Linked DNA regions of Homo sapiens. The protein of the gene in region 5 interacts with the protein of the main gene of each other region in a biochemical or structural test. Each region holds a gene or a part of one and is shown on either strand. Other genes may lie near its edges.

Region 1 (3,953 bases), on a different chromosome or scaffold from region 5:
ACTCTGGAGCGAACTCTGGGGAGAGAATGGGGCGTGTGTGCACATGCTCAGTGGTTTGCAGCTGCCAGAGTGACCCTAGGATGGGACAGCCACCGGGACTGTGGCAGCACCCACATGGAGTGATGGTCAGGGAGAGATCAAGAGATATGACTCCGGAGACCCTAAGTCCTCTAGAGACCCCAAGGGGAGACCCAAAGGGGAGCGGCCGAGGAACCCTGAGACAGAGACATGGAGGGCTAAGAGATAATGAGCAAAAAGAGACCTAGAGAGGAGAGACAAAGAGACCAAGAGAGACAAGAGATAAACGGAGACAGACCAAGAGTCAAAATAAAGGCGGAGACCGAGACGTAGAGGCTGGCAGAGGGACCCATACAGAGGCCCCCAGAACGACGAATCTCAGAAATAAATGACCCATAGAGATACTCAGAGATACATCCCAAAAGAGACAGAGACCCAGAGGGGACAGCCGGACACAGACACACAAGAGAGTGAGAGACAAAGGTGCAAACAGGGCGACTCCAGGCCGGGCGCCGTGGCTCACGCTTGTAACCCCAGCAATTCGGGAGGCCAAGGAGGGCAGATCACTTGAGGTCGGGAGTACCAGACCTGCCTGGCCAACATGGTGAAACCCCTTCTCAACTAAAAAAGAAAAAAGAAAAAAAATTAGCTGGGCTTGGTGGCGCCTGTAATTCCAGCTACTAGGGAGGCTGAGGCACGAGAATCGCTTGATCCCGGGAGGTGGAGGTTGTTGCAGTGAGCCGAGATCGCGCCACTGCACTCCAGCCCGGGCGACAGAGGGAAACTGTGTCTCAAAAAAAAAAAAAAAAAAAAAGACAGAAAGAAAGAAGAAAGAGAAAAGAAAAGAGGCGACTGCAACTGAAGCCTGATTCTGACGAAACACACGCACACGGAAACTTGGAGAGACGCAGGACAGGATCCCGGCGGCAGAAGGACGGAGAGAAAGGGGACCCCGGGACGGGAAAGGCGCAGAGCAGGCGCGGGCGGCGGCGGCGGCGGGGCAGGGCAGGGCGGGCGTCCCGGCAGAGGGCGCGCGGTCGCCCTGTCGCCCTCCGCCCCGCCGGGGTCACAGTGCCCCCTCCCTCGCGCCCTAGCCGCCCTGCCGGGCTATTTTTACGCGCGGACACCGGACACCGGACACCGGGCTGGGGCGGCGGCGGCGGCGGCCGAGGCGGCCGAGGCGGGGCCGCACCGGGGCCGGGCGTCGGGGCCACACGTCGGTTCGCGGGTCGCCGGGGCTGCGCGCGCCATGGAGCCGCGGTGCCCGCCGCCGTGCGGCTGCTGCGAGCGGCTGGTGCTCAACGTGGCCGGGCTGCGCTTCGAGACGCGGGCGCGCACGCTGGGCCGCTTCCCGGACACTCTGCTAGGGGACCCAGCGCGCCGCGGCCGCTTCTACGACGACGCGCGCCGCGAGTATTTCTTCGACCGGCACCGGCCCAGCTTCGACGCCGTGCTCTACTACTACCAGTCCGGTGGGCGGCTGCGGCGGCCGGCGCACGTGCCGCTCGACGTCTTCCTGGAAGAGGTGGCCTTCTACGGGCTGGGCGCGGCGGCCCTGGCACGCCTGCGCGAGGACGAGGGCTGCCCGGTGCCGCCCGAGCGCCCCCTGCCCCGCCGCGCCTTCGCCCGCCAGCTGTGGCTGCTTTTCGAGTTTCCCGAGAGCTCTCAGGCCGCGCGCGTGCTCGCCGTAGTCTCCGTGCTGGTCATCCTCGTCTCCATCGTCGTCTTCTGCCTCGAGACGCTGCCTGACTTCCGCGACGACCGCGACGGCACGGGGCTTGCTGCTGCAGCCGCAGCCGGCCCGGTGAGAGGCGGGGCGTGGGTGGAGACGGGCGGGGTTTGGGAGGAGATGGGCGGGGTCCAGAGGGGACCTGGCCAATCATAAGGCGGGGCCAGGGGCTGCGAGGGGTGGGCCAGCCGAAGACAGGGTGGGCGGGAGGCGGGGCCTGAGGATCCGGGTCGGAGGACCTGCCCCATCAGAAGGTGGGGTTGAGGTCAGTGAGAAACCCGGCGTGAAGAGGGCAGGGCCCTTGATGCAAGGGGTAGGAGGACAGGAACCTTAAAAATCACAGCTGAGGGGGGCCAAGGAGAGCCTGAAAACTCCGGAGTCTGTGCGGCTGGGTGGTGAAAGCCAGGCCCTGAATAACTCCAGCTGAGGGTGCTGGAGCCCGAGGGGCGACAGTAGGAGGAATCTATGGAAAGAAAGCCAGGTTGAGGGGCCAGAGGAGGGGGCCTAGGGCTCGGCTTGCAGAGAAGGTCTTTTTTTTTTTATTTCCTGTGAGACAGAGTCTTGCTCTGTCGCCCAGGCTGGAGTGCAATGGCGCTATCTCGGCTCACTGCAAGGTCTGCCTCCCGGGTTCAAGCGATTCTCCTGCCTTAGCCTCCCAAGTAGCTGGGATTACAGGTGCAGGCCACCACGCCCGGCTAATTTTTGTATTTTTAGTAGAGATGGGGTTTCACCGTGTTGGCCAGGATGGTCTCTATTTCCTGACCTCGTGATCCGCCCGCCTCGGCTTCCCAAAGTGCTGGGATTACAGACGTGAGCCACCGCGCCCAGCCGCATTATACTCTGGGCTGGGACTGTGGAGGGCAAGGAAAAGCTAGGCACAAGGTGGTGGGGCCAGGGCAGGGATGCTCCCCATCTAGAAAATCAACACTGGAGGCGGGACTTTGAGAGAGAAGAGGTTGCACCCTACTCAAACATGAGTTCCCACGCATGAAGGGGCAGGGACCACGTCTCCAGCCACCCACCAGGTCAGGCAACCAGAAAGTCAGCGGCCCAGGGATGATCCCTGGGATCCTGGGAGGAAGTCTGGGATAACCAGGTCACGGAGGGCCTTGGCGCAGCGGCTACTGACCAATGTGTAAAGAGGAGCTGGGTATTTAAATGATGATTAAGGCTGTCCCCGTGTCCTAGCCCCAGCCTGACCCTCCCTGAACACTTTCCTCCCTGCAGTTCCCCGCTCCGCTGAATGGCTCCAGCCAAATGCCTGGAAATCCACCCCGCCTGCCCTTCAATGACCCGTTCTTCGTGGTGGAGACGCTGTGTATTTGTTGGTTCTCCTTTGAGCTGCTGGTACGCCTCCTGGTCTGTCCAAGCAAGGCTATCTTCTTCAAGAACGTGATGAACCTCATCGATTTTGTGGCTATCCTTCCCTACTTTGTGGCACTGGGCACCGAGCTGGCCCGGCAGCGAGGGGTGGGCCAGCAGGCCATGTCACTGGCCATCCTGAGAGTCATCCGATTGGTGCGTGTCTTCCGCATCTTCAAGCTGTCCCGGCACTCAAAGGGCCTGCAAATCTTGGGCCAGACGCTTCGGGCCTCCATGCGTGAGCTGGGCCTCCTCATCTTTTTCCTCTTCATCGGTGTGGTCCTCTTTTCCAGCGCCGTCTACTTTGCCGAAGTTGACCGGGTGGACTCCCATTTCACTAGCATCCCTGAGTCCTTCTGGTGGGCGGTAGTCACCATGACTACAGTTGGCTATGGAGACATGGCACCCGTCACTGTGGGTGGCAAGATAGTGGGCTCTCTGTGTGCCATTGCGGGCGTGCTGACTATTTCCCTGCCAGTGCCCGTCATTGTCTCCAATTTCAGCTACTTTTATCACCGGGAGACAGAGGGCGAAGAGGCTGGGATGTTCAGCCATGTGGACATGCAGCCTTGTGGCCCACTGGAGGGCAAGGCCAATGGGGGGCTGGTGGACGGGGAGGTACCTGAGCTACCACCTCCACTCTGGGCACCCCCAGGGAAACACCTGGTCACCGAAGTGTGAGGAACAGTTGAGGTCTGCAGGACCTCACACCTCCCTAGAGGGAGGGAGGGAGGGCAGGGTGGAGGGCAAGGCTGGGGGGAGGGGATTGGGTTTAGGAAGAGCTAGGTTAAGTCGTAACGAGTGGGGAAACACTGAGTCTTGTTGGGTCTTGGGTTGTGTGGTT
Region 2 (3,500 bases), on a different chromosome or scaffold from region 5:
CTGCGCCTCCGCCCACAGTGGCACCGCCCCTCGCCCCCGTAGCTGAGCAGGAGTCTGAGTCCTGCAGGAAGGCGCGGCGGCCACAGCAGCCCCAGGGAGGCCGTGAGAGGACGCGTGAGGGCCCGGGGCAGACCACCCCAGGCTCTTCAACACAACAGATGAGAACGAAGTCCTTGTTCCAGGCGACTCACTGAGGAAATGCTCCGATAGACTCGGAGAGGGCTGGACACAGAGTGGACCCCACTCTCTTGGCTTCTCTCGCGGATCTGGGTTTGCAACAATGGCTCGTCGGAACTGTGTAGAGCGTTCAGGTTTATTTTAGACCCTGGGTCAATGTCTTGGAGGAAAAGCCATTGACTCTCGTGGAAGAATCCTGGGGACAAGAATCTGGGGCGTCGCTCACGCCCTGTTAAAACTTCAGTTCTTCTACCCACATGGGGCATTCTCCACCTCCCAGCAGCAGATAACTCACTGGATAACCTGATGTCGGGATTTGGCCGGGAAAACATGCTTTTCTGTGACTTTGGAGCTGTTTGCACGTGGCAGGAAGTGGGCGCCTACTAAACCAGCAAACGTGGGACAACCAGCCTGGCACCGCCCGAGCCACGCCAGAGCCCCCATGCATCGTCTCCTGATGGCAAGCACTCCAGTAGCCAGAACACCAAGGAGGGACGTGCGAATGTCCACAGTTGGCCGGGCTGTCCCTGGGCTGATCTCTGGGGGAAGCAGGAGCCCCAGCTGGAGCTCGGACCGGACACTCACCCCACGACTGTTGCAGGAGGCAACTGACGCTTCGGGCTCTGGGGCACTCAGGAGAATCTGGACAGAGGCCCACCCAGCTCACCTCTTTACAGAGGGGCAGAGTGAGGGTGGGGCTCTCCTGGGCCCTGACTCCCCCGAAAACCCTCAGGGGCCTCTGTCCAGGGTGGGCCTCAGAGCCAAGCCTGAACCACAGGGCGCTGTCTCTCTGTGGGGTCCTGGTGTCCAGGAAGAAATGGGCAGATTCTAAACACTCCCCGGAAAGCAAAGTGTCTGCTGTCACTCCAGCTCTGCGGCCCCACAGCGACGCCCGCTCCTCTCCCAGGTGCCTTCGCCCTCGCACAGGTCCAGGCTCCTCGTCCCGGGATGCAGGGCCCCTCCGGTGCCCGCCTGGCCAGTGCTGTTCGAACCCTGGGGCAGGGGCCCTATTTCGGGCTTTGACTGTCAGCCAGTCCCTTGGCTCCCCAGAGCACCCTCTGTCCACGGTGGACACTCTCTAGCCAGCCAGGGCCTCGTCTTGGCTGGACGGACAAGAAGTGTGGCCTCAGGAGGGAAGCAGGAGCTCTCGGGCCCGCTGGCTGCCTGCATCCCGACACAGGTGACACTGCCTCTGCCCATGGCCCTTCCTGCACAGGAGGGTCCCTCTCCACTTCCCGCCTCACTCAGCCGGAGCCATCCCAGAGGCCCGGCCGGCTGCCTCCTCCTGCCCCGATGCCCAGGGCAGCATCCATGGCGTGGTCAGAGTGGCTGGAGCCTGGCACAGGTGCAGCGATCACCAGGGGGCTGGGGAGGGGCCAGGCGGCTGCAGCCCTCACCCCTGCTGGCACCCACCCACAGGGTTCTTACCGGAACATGGCACCCACCCTGCTCGCCTGCCTGAGGTTCATAACTAAACCCTACACAGTGGGGCCCTGAAGCACAGACATGTTTCCCACAGTCTGGAGGCTGGAAGCCTGAGACAGAGCTGAGTGCAGGCTGGTGCCCCGAGGCCCCCTCCTGGGCCTGTGCACGCATGTTTCTGGGCTGATGCCCCTGAAGCCCCCTCCCCAGCCTGTGCACCCCTCTGTGCTTCCCCGGTGAGCTCACCTCACTCACCTGATGAAGAAAAGATGAAGCTCCATCAGCTCCAAGCCTTTCCAGCTGGGTCGATTTTCCCCCAGTCTACTCTGCCACAGAGAACACACATTCCCCTTTGAACTCTGACCCTGAACCCTTTTCTTGGGCCGAGAAGCAGGTGGAGTTTGCGGCCTCCGGTCCAGGTCTGTTGGTGCCGAACAGTCTCCACTCTTTCTCCACCTCTCGCAGAAGCTCGTACAGAATCCTCCCGGAAGATGTTGACAAGCAGGGTTTCGATGAGTGTGGGGCTCCCAGTGCAGGGCTGGGGCCATCCCATGGTTTCCCTGCCTCTCTGTAAGGCCCATCCAGATCCCACCTGGCCACCCGCAGGCCACGGGAAGAGAGGAGGCTGGAGGCAGGCATCAGTCGGCCGATACATGGCCCCAGGAGCCAGCCTCAGAGCCACACAAGGATGCCTTTGGCCAGCAGAGCCAGTGGAGGGCGAGGACAGACAGCACTCCGTGGCCACGTGGGGCCCCTCCCGTGCACTCCCTGAGCATCCACAGACGCAGCCTGACCGTACCTCCCCAGGCAGCCCCCCTTCCCTGAGACCCCACACGAAAATGCCTGGAGCGGCTGCAGGGGAAGCCGAGCCCCAAGGGTAGGCTCAGGCGACGGCGCCGCCCACACAGACCCACCAGCCAGTCACACACGTCTCCTTTGCTTTATCCTCAGGATCTGAAGACAGTGCTCTCCCTGCCCCGCTACCCAGGGGAGTTCCTGCACCCCGTGGTGTACGCGTGCACGGCCGTCATGCTGCTCTGCCTCCTGGCCTCCTTCGTCACCTACATCGTGCACCAGAGGTGAGCCTGGCATGGGCAAGGGCGCCCCCTGTGCCCAAGAAACCTGCTTTTACCTTCAAAGGCAAGTCCCTGAAGGGCAATGCCACTGCCCCCTCATGTAGCAAGAAGTCCTTGAAGGTACAACTCAGGTCACCAGCTAGCTCAGACCCGCTCAGCAGCCTGGTGCCCATCACACAGCCGAAGGGTGGATGGAGCTCAGGGAAGCCGCGCCTGTCCACTCAGGCCTCCGTCAGGGTCTTCTCCACGGCATCCCCCGTGTCCTTAACTGGGCAAAATAAGTTCTTCCAGAAATAGGTGTGGTGTCCGTCCAGGCACCCTGAGGAGCTCAGTTCCCCCGGGCAGTCACTATGGCCTGCAGAGCCTGGGAGAGGCACCAAGAACATGAGGGTGTCCAGCCGCAGTCAGGGTGGGCATGCCCACAGCCAGTCATGGGCGGGGGTTCGGCTATGTCTGAGGCCAAGGTCGCCTCGGTCACGGACAGAGCTTAGAGGCGCCCAGGGCCACAGTCTCATCAGAGACTCGGGCACACACGAGGCTGTGATCACAGGAAGAGGCTTGGGCGGTTCCGAAACTGTCATCTTGGTCTGTTTGGGCTGCTGCAGCAGAACACGGGGGCCTCGATGGTTTATCGACAGGAGAAACTGACTTCTCAGTTCTGGAGGCCGAGGTCCCAGATCAAGGCACCCATGACGCTGTGTCTGGTGCGTCTGGAGAGGGCCAGCTCCAGGCTCACAGACGGCACCCACTGCCTGTGTCCCTGCCTGTGTCCCTGCATGTGGAGGGTGAGGCACTCTGGGGGCCTCTTTCTCAAGGTCCCTGATC
Region 3 (3,500 bases), on a different chromosome or scaffold from region 5:
CCCAAAAAGGACAGTAAATCATTTTTGTACTATAAATTTTTTGTTATTATGGCTCCATATATAGAAAAGGACCTGGTCCTCCTCCTGCCTGGAACAGATTCATTTGTTCATCCAATCATGTATTTAACAAATATCTCTTGCATGCCTACTGTGTTGCAGAGACTAGAGTTCAGGAACTCTATTAGTCAGAGTAGTTAATGTCTGCTGCTGCAACAAACAAACCTAAACATCTCAATGGCTTGACACAACAAAAGTTTACTTCCTGCCCACATAAAGTCCACTGTGGGAAGAGCAGCCTCCTTGTAGCTACACTCTTCAAAGTTGCTGGGGCAAGAGAAGAAAGGCTTGAAGGAGGCACAACAGTTCTTAACTGCTTCAATCTGAAAGGAACACATGTCACTCACAGTGCGTTGGCCACAACTAGCCATATGGCCCCAGGAGCTGGGAGATGTAGGAGCACATAGCTATTGGGTGAGCACCTACTGTCTCTACCACAGGGAGCATTTGAGTAGTAACTTCCTGGGCTGCAACACATCAACCACACTAATTTCAGTTCTGCCAGACAGATAATTCCCTGAACATCAAATAGTCAAAACCAATGAGATTGCAAAAGAAGATATACCATTAATTTATATTTAAACAAATATGATAGAATTATATGTGTAAACTATCATCTGACACAAGATAATATATAGCGTGTAATTTCAGAGCTAGACATTTTGGTGGGGATGGCCTGGAATCAGGAAAGAGGAGGGGTTTAAGGTAAATTTCTGCAATGTAAAAATTCCCTAACATTTAATAACAGAGGAATGTAAATATGGCCATGGGGGTGGGGGCGGAAAGCACATTTTTTTCAAAAAGTAAGGAGGAAGAAAGGAACAGTGGGTGAGGGAGAGAGGGAGGGAAGGTGAGAAGGAAGAAAGTAGAGAGGAAGAGAGGGAGGAAGAGAGGTGGGAGAATTGGTGATGCTAGGTACTTTTATTCCGTGTCAGGCCAGACAAAGAGCTCTTAGAGAGAGAAGCCAGTTGCCACTCATGGAACCCTGAGATGTTTCAGACCCACGAAAGGAGAGGTCCTTGGCTCTCTGAGAAGGATTTTAGGGAAGCTGGAAGAAATGACTTTCCTCAAATCCCAGCTGGAGGACAGCAAATGTGAATGTCAGGGCCAGTAGCCATGCACTGAGGGCTCTTGGAAACTGTTGGTCACAACACCATCTATTGGTAAGCTCTGTCGGTGGTAAGATTGTGGCCAGAGGACTCTGATGTGCCCGTCTTGCATCTCCTACAAAACCCAGCATGGCACACAACAAGCATAGGGGGCTGGGGGAGGGGGAAGTCGGTGCTGCTCTGTGTCCTGTCTCCCAATTGTGCTGTGAAAAACCAAGCTGGACTGAACCACCATGGGAACTGGGGGATAGTTCCCAGCAGCCACCACAGAAGTATACCCCAGTTCTGCCTATCTGAGTTGAGGGAAGAGGATTTCACCAAAAGCCAGAAAAAAACACTTCTTGGGATTGAGTTTGCAGAAAAGGAGGTACTTGAAATCACTGAAAATCTGTGGCCTTCAAGAAGACTGTGGACTTAAAAGCAGACAGTCCTCATGCAGCAGGAGTGGCTACACTACAAATTGGCACCCCAAAATACAAATATCTATTTGATGACTTAGATAAGGAATGGGCAGGAGCTGGGAGTGGTGACTTACCCCTGTAATCCCATCACTTTGGGAGGCTGAGGTGGGAGGATTGCTTGAGGCCAGGAGTTCAAGACCAGCCTGGGCAACAAAATGAGATCCCATCTCTACAGTAACAAAATTTTTTAAAACTAGCTGGGCACAGTGGTGTATGCCAGTAATCCCAGCTACTCAGGAGGCTGTGGCAGGAAAATCACTGGAGCTGGAGTTAGAAGCTGCAGTGAACTGTGATCATGCCACTGCACTCCATCCTGGGCAACAAAGTGAAACTCCATCCATCTCTAAAAATAAAATATTTTTAAAAAAATATTTAAAGAGTGTAAGAATGGGCAGGAAGATTACCAGGAGGAAAAGGCTTGAAAGAAACTCAAAAGCTAAAGGCAACAATGCAAGGAGATAAAACAGCCCGAGATGACACCTGTGGGGCTCCTAAAGGAGCTGGAAGGAGTAACAACGAGCCAGGACCTAATGCCTAACTTCTCATCAGAAACAGCTGTGTAAAGTATTTTCTTGTGCTTAACGAGGAAACTGGGGAAGAGAGACCTGAAGCAGAGGAGCTGGATGAAATGCCTGGAGGGAGAAATGTAAGTTTGCAATGATTCTCCCAGAGAGTTTAATTTTGACCTAGAACCCAGAAAAGTATCACTCTTTAGCAGAGAAGTAAGCCTTAAAGTGTTTACAGAAAGGCAAAAAGCAGATACCTATAATACTTTAGTTAATAATCATAATTATCACTGGGTACAGTGGCTTGCACCTGTAATCCTAGAAATGCAGGAGGCTGAGACAGAAGGATCATCACTTGAACCCAGAAATTCAAAGCCACGGTGATCATGCCACTGCACTCCAGCGTGGGCAACAGAGCAAGATCTCACCTCAAAATATATACATAAATAAATAATTATAATAATCATTGCCAGTTATTAAATTCTTCCTAAGTGCAATCTCTGTTCTTGCAAAATCTCACTTAACTTTTCATTCGTCTGACAAAAATGTATCATCATGTCTCTTTGGAACTTACAGCTATAGAAGAATGTAATTCAATGCAACAAGTTGTATTGTATAAACTACAGATAGATTAATGAGGTAAATGGTGGTGGTAGCAGGACTGTATACTTGTATATTACCAGCTCTGTATAACTGATACCTCAAGATTCAATCTCATTGTATTCTACACAGTCAATACAGCATGCAGTACTCTGAGGACAGTGCCAGAAATAAAAATAACTACTATTTATTGAGCTGCATATTGGCTCTTCAGCTTAATCTTTACAAAAATCAGGAAAATATGTATTAGCTTTAGGTTTAAAAAGTTGAAAACTGAGGCTGGGGGTGAGGGAAGGACATGCCCAAGGCCTCGTGGATAGAAGATGGCAGAAACAGGAAGTGAACACAAGGCAAAGCTTCTAAGTCTGCATCCTTTTCCCCTGCCCAGACCCTGTTTCTAAAGGCAGGAATGGGCTGCCTTTAGAATTGAAGAGCTTGGTCTAGGCTTGAGCACAATAAGCGCAGAGGGTATATGGGGGTTGACCCATTTGTAACAATATAATCAATGATGTGAAATTAGGAGTATGAATTAAGTTTAAAGCATGGATGACCTGCATCCCATTCACACATGCCTTCCCTGGAAACAGTAGAAGGGATGAGCAAAGGGCCAAAAATGAGCAGAGTGGAGAGGGGGCAAAGATATGGCAAACTCATGTCCCTGGCTCCATCATGTCCCTGGCTTGACATCACAGTCAAGTAATGCTTTTTCTAAAGTGTTTGCAAACATTTGGGCTAAATTTGGTAAAGTGGTAAGCCTTACAGTTAGA
Region 4 (3,500 bases), on a different chromosome or scaffold from region 5:
TGTGGGGCTGTGCACTGCAGGGTATTTAAAAGAAGCATCCCTGGCCTCCCACTAGATGCCGGTAGGAACTCCCCTGTGGTAGACAGAATAATATACCACCAAAAATGCCCACGCCCCAATCCCTAAAACATGTGAATACCTCATAGCAAAGGGAACTTAAGGTTTCAGGTGGAATTAAAAGTCACTAATCAGCTGACATTAAAATAATGAGATTATCCTGGATTATCCAGGTGAGCCCAATGTAATCACAAGAGTCCCGAAAAGAGCGAGAGAGAGAAATGACCACACAAGAAGAGTGGATGAGATGCAACTTGGCTGGCTTTGAAAATGAAGGAAGGGGGCCACTGGAAAAGGAACCACAACAGATCCTAGAGCCTTCAGAAGGAACACAGTCAGGCCAACACCTTGAAGTTAGCCCAGTGAAACCTGTTGGGATTTCTGAGGTCCAGAACTGTAAGACAATAAATTTGTGTTGCTTGAAGCCACTAAGTTTGTGGTCATTACAGCAGTGATAGGAAATTAATACACCACCACTTCCAGTTGTGTCTTCAGACACTGCCAAATGTCCCCTGGGGACAAAGTCACCTCCAGGTTAAGAATCACTGCTCTACACAAGTCCAAACTCCTGAGATGAGCACAGTGAGACGCTTCGTAATTACCACTATCCTACCTGTTGAACACTATTATCCTGCACACAGCAAGATACATCCTCTTCTCCAGGCACCCCAAACTTCACTTGGGCAACACTCAATATGCCTTCACTCTCTGCAGTTGTGATGCCCAGGGGCTCCTTGGAGAGTAATGTGCTTTGACCAGTCTCTCATTTTTGTTCATACCCATAATTATCCCCCCAGTAGAGGCTGGGTGTGGTGGCTCATGCCTGTAATCCTAGCACTTTGGGAGGGTGAGGCAGGCAGATGGCTTGAGGCCAGGAGTTCAAGACCAGCCTGGCCAACATAGTGAAACCCAGTCTCTACTGGTGCATGCCTGTAGTCGCAGCTACTGGGGAGGCTGAGGCAGGAGAATCGCTTGAACATGGGAGGTTGCATTGAGCTGAGATCGTGCCACCGCACTCTAGCCTGGGCAACAGGGTGAGACTCTCTCTCTCTCAAAAAAAAAAAAAAAAAAAAAAAAAAAAAAAAAAAAAAAAAAAAAAAACCCAACAGGTCTGATTTCTGACTTTATTCGGTCAGGCTTTTATTACATGAAAAGCCATGTGGTTGTACGTGTATCAAACTGCAGGTGCCCTAACCTGCTCCTCCAAACAAATTATTGCGCTTAGGGCCCTCTAAGTCTTCTTTTTTGGGAGCTGTAGAATCACCAACACCTCTGCGCCTTTGCCTGTCCACTCTTTTCTGCCTCATGAAGGCATCACTTTCCTTCTTCTCCTTAGAAATGGCAGTCATCTTTGAAGATCAAGTTTAAATGTTCTCTGGACAGTGAAGCCTTTCAAGGCCCCCCAAAGCACAGTGAATCATCACCCGCCCCTCTCTGTTCCCTCATTCTGCTGATCTTCTGTATTCCCCCTATCAGTTAACTCACCTGTCCCCTCATTAGACTATGAGCTCTTTAGCCTCTCTGCATTCCTAGTACCTACAGAAATGCGTATGCTCAAGAAATGCTTGTGCCATGAATGAAGAAAAGTATAGACGCCAGTGATATATAGAAATCATTTTAATTATGGGTTGCAAAAGTTGGCAAACTCCAGGTTAGCTATGGACATAATCCCAGCTCTGATCCACAAGAATTAGGAGAAGCTCAGGATTGAAATGAGACTTTATTCCTTTGCCTGTGATCAGAGTCAGGGGCAGAGCTTGGCTGCTAAGAACACAAGTTGAGAAACACGTTCCAACTGTGTTACCACGTACCATTTACCCTTTGTCTCCTCCATGTTTCTACTCAATAGATGATCTACCCAGCATGTCCAGGAATCAGATTTTGTTAAAGCAATCCTGAAACACGTAGTGAGGAAATGCTAACAAGATCGTAGCTGACTTTGCCTAACACTTCCCAGGTTTAGGCCATAAAATGGTCATTTGTAAGCTTTGAACGAGCACAAGTAACAAAGCTGCAGGCATTTGTGAGAGTCTTGGGAGCAGGGGCTGTTGTATGGACAATTTACGTTAAAAGCAGACAAGATTCTGAAAGAACAAAGTGGGAAATGGATGAGATCCATCAATGGCTAAACCTGAAGGTGAATTCTTAGGATTTCATATGGATTCAATGGAAGAGAAATAGAAAATTTGAACAGACTGTAAGGGGTACATGACTCCAGAGGGATCCTCGTGGTTTTGGAATCAAACGAAGGCGCCAACAAAGTTTAGGCCAGCTGTAAACACTTCTGTGGGCACTCTCTTGATGGCCAGCATGGGGTACTATGGGCAACCTCACTAACGCAGCAGTTCTCAGTTAGGGCGATTTTGATCCCCAGAGGATATTCAGCAGTGTCTAGAGACATTGTTTGTTGTCACACTGGTCTGGAGGAGTGCTACTCGCATCTAGTGGGAAGAGGCCAGGGGTGCTGCTAAATACCCCGCAATACCCAGGACAGCTCTGTAGCAAAGAATCATTCAGCTTCAAATGTCAATAGTGCCAAGGCTGAGAAACCCTGAGCCAGAGCAACCAGAAAAGTTCAAGAACCAAATCTATATGAACCAGATATTCCCTCCAGGGCCTCTAAGCAGCCTTGCAAGATGCTCATTGGCTGACATTTTGATGTCATTAGTAAAGACTCTCCTTTAAGGACCAAAGACTCAGCTTGCCTGCAAGTGAAAAGGACAGGCAGTGCCCAATAGGATACATTTTCTTGGTTTTTCAGAGGGTTCCAGGGCGTTAAACCTTTGAAAGGTAATCCAGGCCATTAAATTAGAGATCCAAGGGTTATGTTAGGATATCTTGGCCTTTATTAAACAAAACCAGGGTTGGAGCTACATGCTAGAGTTCTATCCAATCACTCCATGCCTGCCTCAAGCATAAAGGAATTTCCAACACACACACACACACATACACACATATTCTATGAGAAAATTCTGGCTTTTTGCTAGATGGCTACATCCTTAGTTTTAACCACCATGAAAAGGTAAAAATCATGGTAGATGAGTTTTGTGCAGACTGCCCACTGTATGGAATAGAAGCCACCCAGTATCACTGCAGTTCAGATCCTTGTCCATTAATTATGAGATGCTAATGGATAAGAAGATAATTTGCAACAAGTGAAATCATCTACAGCCACATGCCTTTTGGTCATAACAGTAATGAGCAGCATCTGTATACTATATTCCAAGTATGTATATGGTTGCTAAGAAAAGCAGAAATGTTCTTAATGATGCAATTAGTTTTAAGCACGAATGTTAGCTAGCTAATCCAAAATGCTGGCTTGCTTTTGTATTTCTCTTTCTCTCAACTTGTACAGATTAATCTGATAATGTGTGCTTCTGAAATACAATGAGAATCCAGCCCCTCCTAAAGACCAAGAGAAATTCAACATTTCAATTTTTGAT
Region 5 (3,500 bases):
TCATTAAACTAGATGTAAGATTGCCATTATTGGAGTTATTAGTATACAGGTTTCCATAAACAGTAATAATGCAGTGGAATTTCTACAATGTAGACTTTATAACTGAATTAATTCCCAAAAATATGGTTGATAATTTCAGATAATTACAATCTTTTGAGGTCTAAAGATTCAGTAGTGTTAATGAACCATTCTCTAAAATAGAAACAAGCCCACTGATGAAATGTATTAGTAAAAAAACTTAAACAAATCTGTTATATTCAAAGAAATATAAATAAAAACATTTGTAACAATACTGGGCTAGTAGCAAAAAATAAGTGTACACTTACATTTCAGCTAAAAAGCCCAGAAGTGGGAGAGTCAAAGAACACTCAGTGGGCTGCAGAAAAGGACTATCTGCCCTTCCTGGTCCTGACCACCAAAGTGTCAAGATGTCTGGGAGGATGAACCTGGGAAATGAGCTGTAAGAGTCGCTCTCTGCAAAATCAAGTCAGGAGCTAGGATGTAAATAATACAAGGGGTCCTACAAGTTGTGCCAGCCTGTGCAGCTAAAGTACTAATATCATAAAATGCAGCTAGGATAACTAAATAGCTAGCTATGACAGGATCAGAAATCTGATTTTATATGAGCTGGATTAGTTATGTTCCTGTATTCGTCTATTACATCTAAGTATTTGGTAAAAAAAACACTGTTTGAAAGCTCAGTCTGTCTCAGCCATGCCTAGGGGTAATGAAGGAAAGGTTTTAGGCTTGGTGTTAATTATTTTCAGGAATAATACACCATGAAAAGCAGCATACAAGCGGGAGTGGAAATCAAACCCAAGAATCCCTAGTAGGGTCAATCCTGGCTGCCTTTGTAGACTCCCATAGCCCCAAGTCTAGAGATTTCTTTTCAACAACTAAAAATCCTAACCAAGTTTTTCTTTTAATAAAGGAGATGGCTATTCCCAACAGCATCTTATATTCAAATTCACTCTTTTATTGACTCAGCAAATATTTTCTGAGCACTTACTACAAGCTATGAGAAATCTGTATCATAATCTGTACCATTAGGGTGGTTGCAATTACCTTAGATCATGCCTACATACGTAAAATGTTCAAACAATTCTCTGTAACTCATCACGTGCCAAGTGATGAAGAGAAAAGTGATGAATGCCAATAATAACTAATGTAGGAGGAATCAGTATGGGGGAGAATGGCTGAACAAAAGCTTTAAGGATGAAGGTGAACAAACTGGCTCATGAGATGAGGACAGGCTGCAATGTGGGAATAAGGTGTTTGCAGGGAAGGAAGAAGACTGCTATGTCTGGCTCTTCCACTAGATTGTATATTCCACGAGGACAGGTCAGTATTTTGCTCTGAAATGTACCACCAGCAACTAGTATAGTGCCTAGAATGTTGTGAGAAATGAATGAGCTGGTGTGCCTGAAATGAAGAATTGAGATTAACAAGACAGGTTGTAGAAGAGACCGTGGAGGACCCTGACTATTAGATTAATCAGTCTGGACTTGACCTCCTAGTTGAACCTTTGCAAGGCAAGCAGGGTTACTGATGTATTAACCTGGCAGTGATTGTTTCAGATTTAAGGGAGGAGAGTTGGGAGGCAGAAGTATATGATGGGGTATTCTACTAAATTAGATATGAAGAAGAGAAGTCCTAGACTCAAGAAGTGGCAGGAAAATGGAAGTAGGGGGTAGATATCAACAGGTCATGGTGAAGGACCGAACCACAAATCCAAGGAGAGAGAGGAGTCCCTGCGCTTGGGTTGACAGGAGACATTTTTTCTTGTTCATGAATATTTCCTCTCTCTCCTAGAAGTTATCCGTTTTTAAGCTTCAATTATTATCACCTTTGTATGATGAAAATGGTCCAGGCCGGTATTAACATCAACTCCGGGATTGTAGAACTCTTACCATCCTCCTCCCCTCATCTCAACTTGCCCTCTAATAAAATATCTTGTCCCATGCTAGTTATTTCTGGAGAATACCTGTTTCTTCTTAAAGATCATCTTCTGAAAGGGAAAACAGTAAGGGGAGCGAAGGGGATTATTGAAAATGCAGAGTTAGAGTGTTTGCTGAGGAGAGTGCATTAGGGAGTTGATAGGAGATGACTGCAAGATTTCTGAACTCTATCTTATAATCTGTGGTATAAATTATGAGTGCTGCATGGTTCCTTCTTTTCTAGATTTTAGTAGTCTGTATAGAAAAGGATAAATCCAACAATGAAGGTAATGAATGGGAAAACTGGGTATAAAATAATACCAATGAGATGATAATTTCAACATGGATGAAGGTGACCCTTGAACAGTCATTCAAGAAGTCCAAGCAGGAAGAGGCTAGTCAGCCCAAGGAAGAGTCTAGCTAGCTCAGCAAGCCTGAGATCATGTGCCAAGCCACATCGCATGCAGGAATGAAAATTAAGATAGGAAGAAAAAATACTCTGTGTATATGGGAAAATACCACAAATTACACATAAATTCTGATGTTTTGCATATAGAAACAGTAAAACTAATCTATATATAATTTAGGTTCCAAAACAGCACAATTTTCTAAGGTTTAAGTGTTAAGAATGGAACAAAAAGGCACAAGTTAACAGAATAATTAAAACTGATACCTGAAGAATCTGGTCTCCAGCAAGAAGTCTCCCGTCTCTGGCAATGACCCCATCCCGATAGACCTCCTGGATGACAATGTTAATCAAAGGTGTTTCGTTGCCACCCACAATGCTGATTCCTAACTGAATGTAAGGATTGGACCGATGAATTTCAATCGTGGTGATTTCTCCTTCTGGTAAACTAAGTGGCTGTTGTGTGGCTGCCAAGTTAAAAATGAGACAGACAAAAACAGATGTTAAAAAAATAAACAAACCCAACAATTTATATTCTGATTATCTTCAGGTAAGTATGTCACATTAATACATGATTAACAGCTAAGCAGTATCACTGGATAAGAAACAAAATGACAAAATATCTGTTGTTAAGATTATCTAAAAATTTTCTCTACTAAAACTGATCAGTAAATAATAAATAGCTACTATGTATCAGATCACTAGGGACGACACAGTGATCTGATTAAGAAATATGAAAAGAAAGTCATTCTGTCCTCATTGATGAGAGAAAATTTGGACCACGAAACAACTGTACATAATGAGAGGCAGTACAAAGGAAACACTAGCTCTGTGGCATAGAAACAGCACAGGTGTTGAGAGAGTAGCCACATCAAGCTCGTAAGAAGAGGTGGGTCTTGAACGGAGACGTAGGAAATGAAGAAGGCGCATAGTTGCGGCAAGGAAAATTCAAATTTGTAGTAGAGCTTGGAAAAAGAAAATCATTTTTAAAAGGAAATATCAAGGGCCCACTACCATGATATGCCCAAGATCCATGACTACGGGCCTTCTGTTAACTTCCTAGTGGGTAACAGAGCAGTGGCTGGTACCAGAGGTGTATAACGGTGAGATGCATGGTCTTGGAGTCAAATACAAACCCAGTCATTTACTGGTTGTAT
Region 6 (3,500 bases), on a different chromosome or scaffold from region 5:
TATTTGTCAGTGTGCTTGGGTGCCTCTCTGACTTTATTCAAGGTATTGACCATTCAGTTCTTAGTTTGTAGAAGAAATGGCAACGTTGGAAACAATAACCTATTTTAATTCTTTAATTATATTATAGTTGTACCTCAGTCCATTTTTCCCTCTTTTGTTTTATCTTAGGTCAACAGGACATACTGCTGTGGCACCTACCGAGCAGGTCCTATGCGGCAGATAAGTCTCGTTGGAGCAGTAGATGAAGAAGTTGGTGATTATTTCCCAGAGTTCCTTGATATGTTAGAAGAATCACCATTTCTGAAAGTGAGTGTTAATTAAGATTATTAAAGTTTTGATCTTTACTTAAGTGGGCACTTTATATGTTGAAGAGTATTTAGCTAATATTGCCTATTGAAATTAAATTTATCCAGTGTTTTGCACAGAAATGTTTAGATAGAATAATATTAGTACAAAGTACTTAAATTCAATTATTCTTTTTAATATAAATTACTATGTAAATAGCATTTATTTCTTTATATACAGTTGTAAAAAAGCCTTCTTAGAACTTTTATTTGGGTGGGAGGATTAACTTATAAATCATTGAAACAATTTTTTAATGTGACTAATCCGTCTGATTTCTAGATGACTTTGCCCTGGGGTACACTTTCTAGCCTCCGACTCCAGTGTAGGTCCCAGAGTGATGATGGGCCTATAATGTGGGTAAGGCCAGGAGAACAGATGATCCCTACAGCAGATATGCCAAAGTCACCCTTCAAAAGACGACGGTAAATATTTCTTTTTCTCAAATAAGCAAAACTACTTTTTTTTAGTTGGTTGCTTATAAAAATGAGCACAGTTTGAAAACCATTTGTCTTGGGCTCCCTTAAGTAAATGTTTTAGTTGTCGGTTCCTCTTTTCAGTCCAATCATCACAGTTATCACAGTGAGGCATTTTTCTAAAACACAAATTTAATTTTTACTTATTTTTTAAAAACCTGTGCCCTAACTGCCTGCAGGATAAAAGATCAAACCCCTTAGTGTGGTTTACATTAATAATCAGGTCAACTGTACCTCTTCTAGATGTATCTGTGTTTAGTCTTCTCCGGCCATACCGAATTCACTTTCCAAACCATAGTCTATCATAACTCTTTGCTTTTGCACTATTTTTTTTTTTTTTTTTTTTTTGAGATAGGGTCTCACTCTGTTGCCCAGAGCTAGAGTGCAGTGGTACAATCATAGCTCACTGTATTCTTGAACTTCTGGTCTCAGGAGAGCCTCCCAAGTAACTGTGGCTATAGGTGTGTACCACCATGCCCATCTGATTAAAAAAATTGTTTTGTGTATTTTATTTTTGTAGAGATGGGGTCTCACCATATTGCCCAGGTTGGCTTTGAACTCCTGGCCTCAAATGATCCTCCTGCCTCAGCCTCCCAAAGTGCTGGGGTTACCGTCCCACAGCAAACTTAATACATTTTCAAAACTTAGCTTGAGCTGGGCACAGTGGCATATGCCTTTAGTCCTAGCTACCTGGTAGGCTGAAGTAGGAGGATCAGTTGAGCCCAGGACTCCACGACAAGATCCTGACTCAAACCCAAACCAAAACCAAACAAAACTTAACTTGGACGTCACCTCCTTTGTGAAGTTTTTCTTTCCTTCCTTAGGTAATTAATTGTTCCCTACAATGTTCTGTTCATTAAAGTTTTGTTTACATGTTTTTATTTTCTACTAACATTTGAGGTGTGCTTTGGGAAGACAGGGACTATTTTATTCATCTTTGTCCTCATGACATATACTAGGTAACCAGTATTTGCTACATGAAACCAATAATGTTCTATAGGACCGAGCCTCAGTAATTCATATTGTGCTAACATGTTTTGTGTTTCAGACTTTGAAGACAAATGTAGATTAACTCACTCTCTAGTACTTTGAAAAATCTAATTTAATGAGACTGAAAATGATCTATACCTGCTTAGACTACGAAAATAGCAATTCAAAATAAGTGCCCAGAAGTGAGTTTTAATGGACTAATCTAAACCTTAACTTAAGGCTCATAGGAGAATGATACTTGAGCTAAGTATGGAATAATCTTAGGTACTTGAAATGTATGAAAATACTTTGAAAACATTATGTACGATGCAGGGTGGTGGCATGGTAAAAACCCAGGAGTCATTTGAAAGTTCTGCACATTGCTAGATTATAGCAGTTTTTGTTGCAGGATGATGACGAATCTTGAAATCTTATTAAATTGTTAAATACTATATACATTTTTTGTTCTGTAATCTTTCCTCAAAAAATGACCATCATTTGTTTCCTGATTTTTATAAACTTAAGAAAAAAGTAATAGGAAAGAGTAAAAAGAGGGCAGGTGCAGTGGCTCACACCTGTAATCCCAGAACTTTGGGAGGCTGAGGCAGGCAGATTGCTTGAGTCCAGGAGTTCAAGACCAGCCTGGGCAACATGACAAAACCCTGTCTCTAGTAAAAATACAAAAATTAGTGTGGTGGCACGCTCCTGTAATCCTAGTTACTGAGGTGGTTGAGGCATGAGAATCGCTTGAACTCAGGAGGCCGAGGTCGCAGTGAGCTGAGATGGTGCTTCTGCACTCCAGCCTGGACGACAGAGTAAGACTCATCTCAAAAAGAAAAAAAAAAAGAAGAGTAGAAAGAAGGCAGGCTGGGCATGGTGGCTCACACCTGTAATCCCAGCACTTTGGGAGGCCAAGGCAGGCGGATCACCTGAGGTCAGGAGTTCGAGACCATCCTGGTCAACATGGTGAAACCCCATCTCTACTAAAAATACAAAAATTAGCTGGGCATGGTGGCAGCCGCCTGTTATCCCAGCTACTCGGGAGGCTGAGGCAGGAGAATTGCTTGAACCTGGGAGGCGAAGGTTGCAGTGAGCCGAGATTGTGCCACTCCACTCAAGCCTGGGGGACAAGAGCAAGACTTCATCTCCAAAAAAAAAAAAAAGGTAGCCACCATTTAGGCATATTAACCTTTCAAATTATATATAGCCATAAATAATCTTTTTACAAAATCCATTCTTTGTGTGATGTTTACTTTAAAACTTGGGAATTTTTACTGTATGGTTGTATCAAGATTTATTTAACCAATTCTTGGTTTTTGTTTTTGTTTTTTCTTTGAGACAGGGTCTTACTCTGTCACCTAGGCTGGAGTGCAGTGGCATGATCAGGGCTCACTGTAGCCCATCTCCCAGGCTCAAGTGATCCTCCCACCTCAGCCCCACCAAGTATCTGGGACTACAGGTGCCTGCCACCATGCCTGGCTAGTTGTTTTTTGTTGTTGTTGTTGTTGTTTTTGAGACAGAGTCTTGCTCTGTCACCCAGGCTGGAGTGCGGTGGTGCGATCTCGGCTCACTGCAAGCCCCTCCTCCCGGGTTCACACCATTCTCCTGCTTCAGCCTCCCAAGTAGCTGGGACTACAGCCTCCCGCTATGATGCCCGGCTAATTTTTTTTTTTATTTTTAGTAGAGATGGGGTTTCAACGTGTTAGCCAGGAT
Region 7 (3,500 bases), on a different chromosome or scaffold from region 5:
CTGGTGAGGGAAAATACCTTTGGTGTATGACCCCTCACTCCCACTCCAGGGTAAAGGGAACATTTTCGGACCTTAGAGGTGGAACTGTCTTCCTGGGAACCATTCTCCACTCCCACCTCAGCTGCAATCCCAGGCAGCAGTGCAGCTATCACTCAGATCATGGACACAGCACCGTGGGCATGGATATGCCATGCTGGAGCCCTTAGATGCCCTCTAGCCACTCTGGAGCATCTTCCGATGGACAGTGGGGGAATCTGAAGGGGCTCGCTTGGTGCTATGGTCTTTCAGAGGCTCTGTAGTGCTCTGTGGGTGGACCCTGGGGGGGCCTGATCTCATTTGAGCTGATTTTCCATTACGCCTGAAGAGTTTCTAGGGGGCTGCCTCTCACTGGCAGAGTAGAAACACCCACTGGAGCCACCACACACATCCACCTGGCTTCTTAGACACCGTCAAGGAATGGTGTCTTCCTCAGTACCCCACAGCTCCCACACTGTCATCCCCCAGCCAAGGGCCATCCCTAGAAAAACTGGTTTACTGTTCCTAAGGAAACCATTGTCTATAGCCCTTAGCCTTGTGGTTTAGGCAAGAGGCCAGGTCAGGTGCCCTAGAGTGAGGCAGGGGCTTCAGCCAAAGTTGTGATCGCAGCTTCTGAGGCAGTTCCTCAGTGGAGTCAGAGTCCGCTGCCACCTGAGCTTTCCACCAGATCTTCTTTCCTTTCCTTGTGCTTTCCTCAAGCTGCAGGCTTGATCCCAGCCCACAAATATGAGAGAATTCTGGAAAGTGCCCTGAGAAATGGGTTCTGGGTTTTTTTTTCATTTTTATTTTTTTAAATGTCCCAGGCTGCCTTCCTGTCCTCCCATCCTGCATCCTGCTTTCTGTTCCCTGGATACCGTAGGATGGTTTTATTTCAGTTCATGCACAAATTAGTCTGGACACTGTGGAGTCATAACAAGAGTGGGATGGAGGTTCCAGGGCCAATCAGTTTCTTTGGAGGGAAGCTTGAGAAGTAGGTTAGAGCAATGCCCACAAAAGCCACTGCTTCTCCTTCCCATCCCCAGCAATGAGCTAAGAGCCAACCTCAGCCAGAGAGAGGGTCTTTGATCACAGAGGGTCAGTCAGTGGGATGTGATTAGTGGGTTTGGGGATGGAGTCCCAGGTAAACCAGAGGGCAAAGGGATCCTCTGAGTCCTGGCTTAAGGGAATGGGGTTTCAAGTTGAGGGTTGGGGACTTAGGGCAGGGGAGCAGCAAGGTGAGGAAAACAGAAAGGCTGGCATGGCGAGCATCCTTGGCAATTCAACCTGCATGCTGTTACACTAGCCCCCATTTCTGCCTTTGCTCAATCCAATGGCCAAAGTCAGTCTATCCTCAGCAGCACCTTCTGACACGATCCAGTGGTAGTGTCCCTCACCTGTGGCCCTCGGGGTGCTGTCCACTGTTTTTCACAGACCCAGCCACCCCCCAGCTCTGGCCCCTGGTTCTTCACACATACCCTGTCAGGCTGTAGGAATTGAACTCACTCTTGACTTTGGGAGGTTGACCAGGCCTTGGAGAGCTCCTTGTGGCAAGAGGTTGGGCTTGGTAGGCATCGTAGTAGTTGGAGCGATTTCTCTGGGATGAGCAGGAAAAGCAGAGGATGATTCCAGCTATCAGGGAGAACAGGGAAGAAATAATGCCCAAGTAAAGAGCCTCTCCAATCTCAAATTTCATGCTGTCAGGCACCAGTGGTGAGTAGAAGTCCCGTAGGATCCCATGAAGATTCCAGGCAACAGGAATGAATCCCAGGAGGCCTCCAAGGATGAAAAAGACTCCACCTGCTACCGCCACTCTGTCTTTGGCTCGGGATTCCTGGCAGAAGACTGTGCATCTCATGCCCACCACAGAGATAATGCAGGCCAGGGAGGAGATTGCACTGGATGTCACCATCATGGCCTGGGCAGCCTGGATGTCAGCGGGCAGGCCCAGAAGGGTGCTATAGATGTCACACTGGGTGATGCCTGTGCTGTGTGTGGCACATTCCATCCAGAGGCCCTTGGAGAAGCCAACTGCTGTCACAATGCTGGCACCGACATAAGAACTTGTTTTCCAGCTGGGGAGCAGCATGGCAACCAGTGTGCCCAAAAGCCCCAGAAGGCCTAGGATGTAGCCCACAAGTTGGAGGCCAAGAGAGGCCATGGCAGACCTCTCAGTAGAAGCGTCTTCAGGGACTGCTCCCTTGTCTTCAGGCTGAAGCTCTTGCTCCTTGAACACCTCTAATCCCTCATTTCAGAGTCTCTCTGCCAGGCTGACTTCTCTCCTCCTTACAAGTGTCTGTGGGTGGCCACAAGCAGCCTCAAGAAGGCATCTAGAAGACCTAAAAAAAATCCATAAACCAGATTAAATATTGACCAGAAGCTTATGAGAAACCAGAAAACGCTGGATGCCTTTTGACCTTTGTTATCTTTAGAAATAACACATGAGAAAGGAAAAAAAAAACAACTTTGAACGTGGAGCCAAAATGTCATCGCCTCCTGCGTAGGCACATGCCTTAGGTTGGCAGCTGGACAAAGCCAGGAGCCAGACAGGTGGCTGCTTTCCGGGAAGGTGATGATGGCAGTGGTGGTTGTGGTGGCTGTGTTAACTCAAGTGCTAGTCTCCAAGGCCTGCTGTTTAATACATTGCCAAGCAACAGTGCCATAGGGCCCCTCAATTGCAGACTGAGGCCAAACTGCAGACTACATCAGGAGGAACAGATCCTAGAATGTAGTCTTGGACTCCAGTTTGTTAGAGGCCTCTTGAATCTCCAGGGGCCTAGAGAGTAGTGGCCTAGCCCTGGATCATTCTGCCCATGGTGAAAATCTACTCCAGGGTAGATGGGGGTGGGCAGCAAAGCCTTCTGTCCATACTCTGAGAGTTCAGATCCTCCCAGCCATGCCCAAATCCCCCTCTGCAGCCTAGTCTAAGGCCTCCTGCATGTATAACATGCCCAGACATTTCCTGTCCAGTCTCCTAATAGATGCTCCCATCATCAGCCTCTTGGATGATGAGGGAGCACTCTGGAACAAGGGTTCCAGGACTGAGAGGGGGCCCTGAAATTCCCTGGGCCATCTGTTAGGGGGGACAAGAGTCTGCCACAGAGGAAAGGGAAACTGCTCTAGAATATAGGGCTTTGCATGAGGCAGGTATCTGAGTCAATGCTTTGGAATCTCAGAGCCATATAAGATTTTGCCGTGTTCAAGGAGCCCTCGGTGTTGCCAAGATTCAGGACACTAAGGGTCAAGGGCACACCTCCCCATTCTCTACAAGACCCTCTGATCCACTAATTTTTCTTTCTTTCTTTTTGAGACAGGTTCTCACTTTGGCACCCAGGCTGGAGTGCAGTGGCATGATCTCGGCTCATTGCAGCCTCGACCTCCTGGGCTCAAGTGATCCTCCTGCCTCAGCCCCACAAGTAGCTGGGACTACAGGAGCGCATCACCACACCTGGCTAGTTTGTGTGTGTGTGTGTGTGTGTGTGTGTGTG

Evidence for each region.
Region 1: the proteins of LNX2 (region 5) and KCNA7 interact in a test that uses a peptide from one of them, tested with the Homo sapiens proteins (one large-scale study listed by IntAct).
Region 2: the proteins of LNX2 (region 5) and ADGRA1 interact in a test that uses a peptide from one of them, tested with the Homo sapiens proteins (one large-scale study listed by IntAct).
Region 3: the proteins of LNX2 (region 5) and CLDN18 interact in a test that uses a peptide from one of them, tested with the Homo sapiens proteins (one large-scale study listed by IntAct).
Region 4: the proteins of LNX2 (region 5) and ARHGAP6 interact in a test that uses a peptide from one of them, tested with the Homo sapiens proteins (one large-scale study listed by IntAct).
Region 6: the proteins of LNX2 (region 5) and RSBN1 interact in a test that uses a peptide from one of them, tested with the Homo sapiens proteins (one large-scale study listed by IntAct).
Region 7: the proteins of LNX2 (region 5) and CLDN2 interact in a test that uses a peptide from one of them, tested with the Homo sapiens proteins (one large-scale study listed by IntAct).

The regions. Positions count from the first base shown.
Region 1 is NC_000019.10:49,069,900-49,073,852, reverse strand, and holds the start of KCNA7 (potassium voltage-gated channel subfamily A member 7), read left to right. Parts: upstream 1-1,153; 5' UTR 1,154-1,267; coding exon 1,268-1,822; intron 1,823-2,974; coding exon 2,975-3,790; 3' UTR 3,791-3,953. UniProt on the Homo sapiens protein: Mediates the voltage-dependent potassium ion permeability of excitable membranes.
Region 2 is NC_000010.11:133,094,424-133,097,923, forward strand, and holds part of ADGRA1 (adhesion G protein-coupled receptor A1), read left to right. Parts: intron 1-2,550; coding exon 2,551-2,678; intron 2,679-3,500.
Region 3 is NC_000003.12:138,013,165-138,016,664, forward strand, and holds part of CLDN18 (claudin-18), read left to right. Parts: intron 1-3,500. UniProt on the Homo sapiens protein: Involved in alveolar fluid homeostasis via regulation of alveolar epithelial tight junction composition and therefore ion transport and solute permeability, potentially via downstream regulation of the actin cytoskeleton organization and beta-2-adrenergic signaling.
Region 4 is NC_000023.11:11,659,421-11,662,920, forward strand, and holds part of ARHGAP6 (rho GTPase-activating protein 6), read right to left. Parts: intron 1-3,500.
Region 5 is NC_000013.11:27,565,030-27,568,529, forward strand, and holds part of LNX2 (ligand of Numb protein X 2), read right to left. Parts: intron 2,811-3,500; coding exon 2,611-2,810; intron 1-2,610.
Region 6 is NC_000001.11:113,774,477-113,777,976, reverse strand, and holds part of RSBN1 (lysine-specific demethylase 9), read left to right. Parts: exon of another isoform or gene 1-157; intron 158-168; coding exon 169-306; intron 307-624; coding exon 625-767; intron 768-3,500. UniProt on the Homo sapiens protein: Histone demethylase that specifically demethylates dimethylated 'Lys-20' of histone H4 (H4K20me2), thereby modulating chromosome architecture.
Region 7 is NC_000023.11:106,926,902-106,930,401, reverse strand, and holds part of CLDN2 (claudin-2), read right to left. Parts: intron 2,352-3,500; 5' UTR 2,174-2,351; coding exon 1,481-2,173; 3' UTR 1-1,480. UniProt on the Homo sapiens protein: Forms paracellular channels: polymerizes in tight junction strands with cation- and water-selective channels through the strands, conveying epithelial permeability in a process known as paracellular tight junction permeability.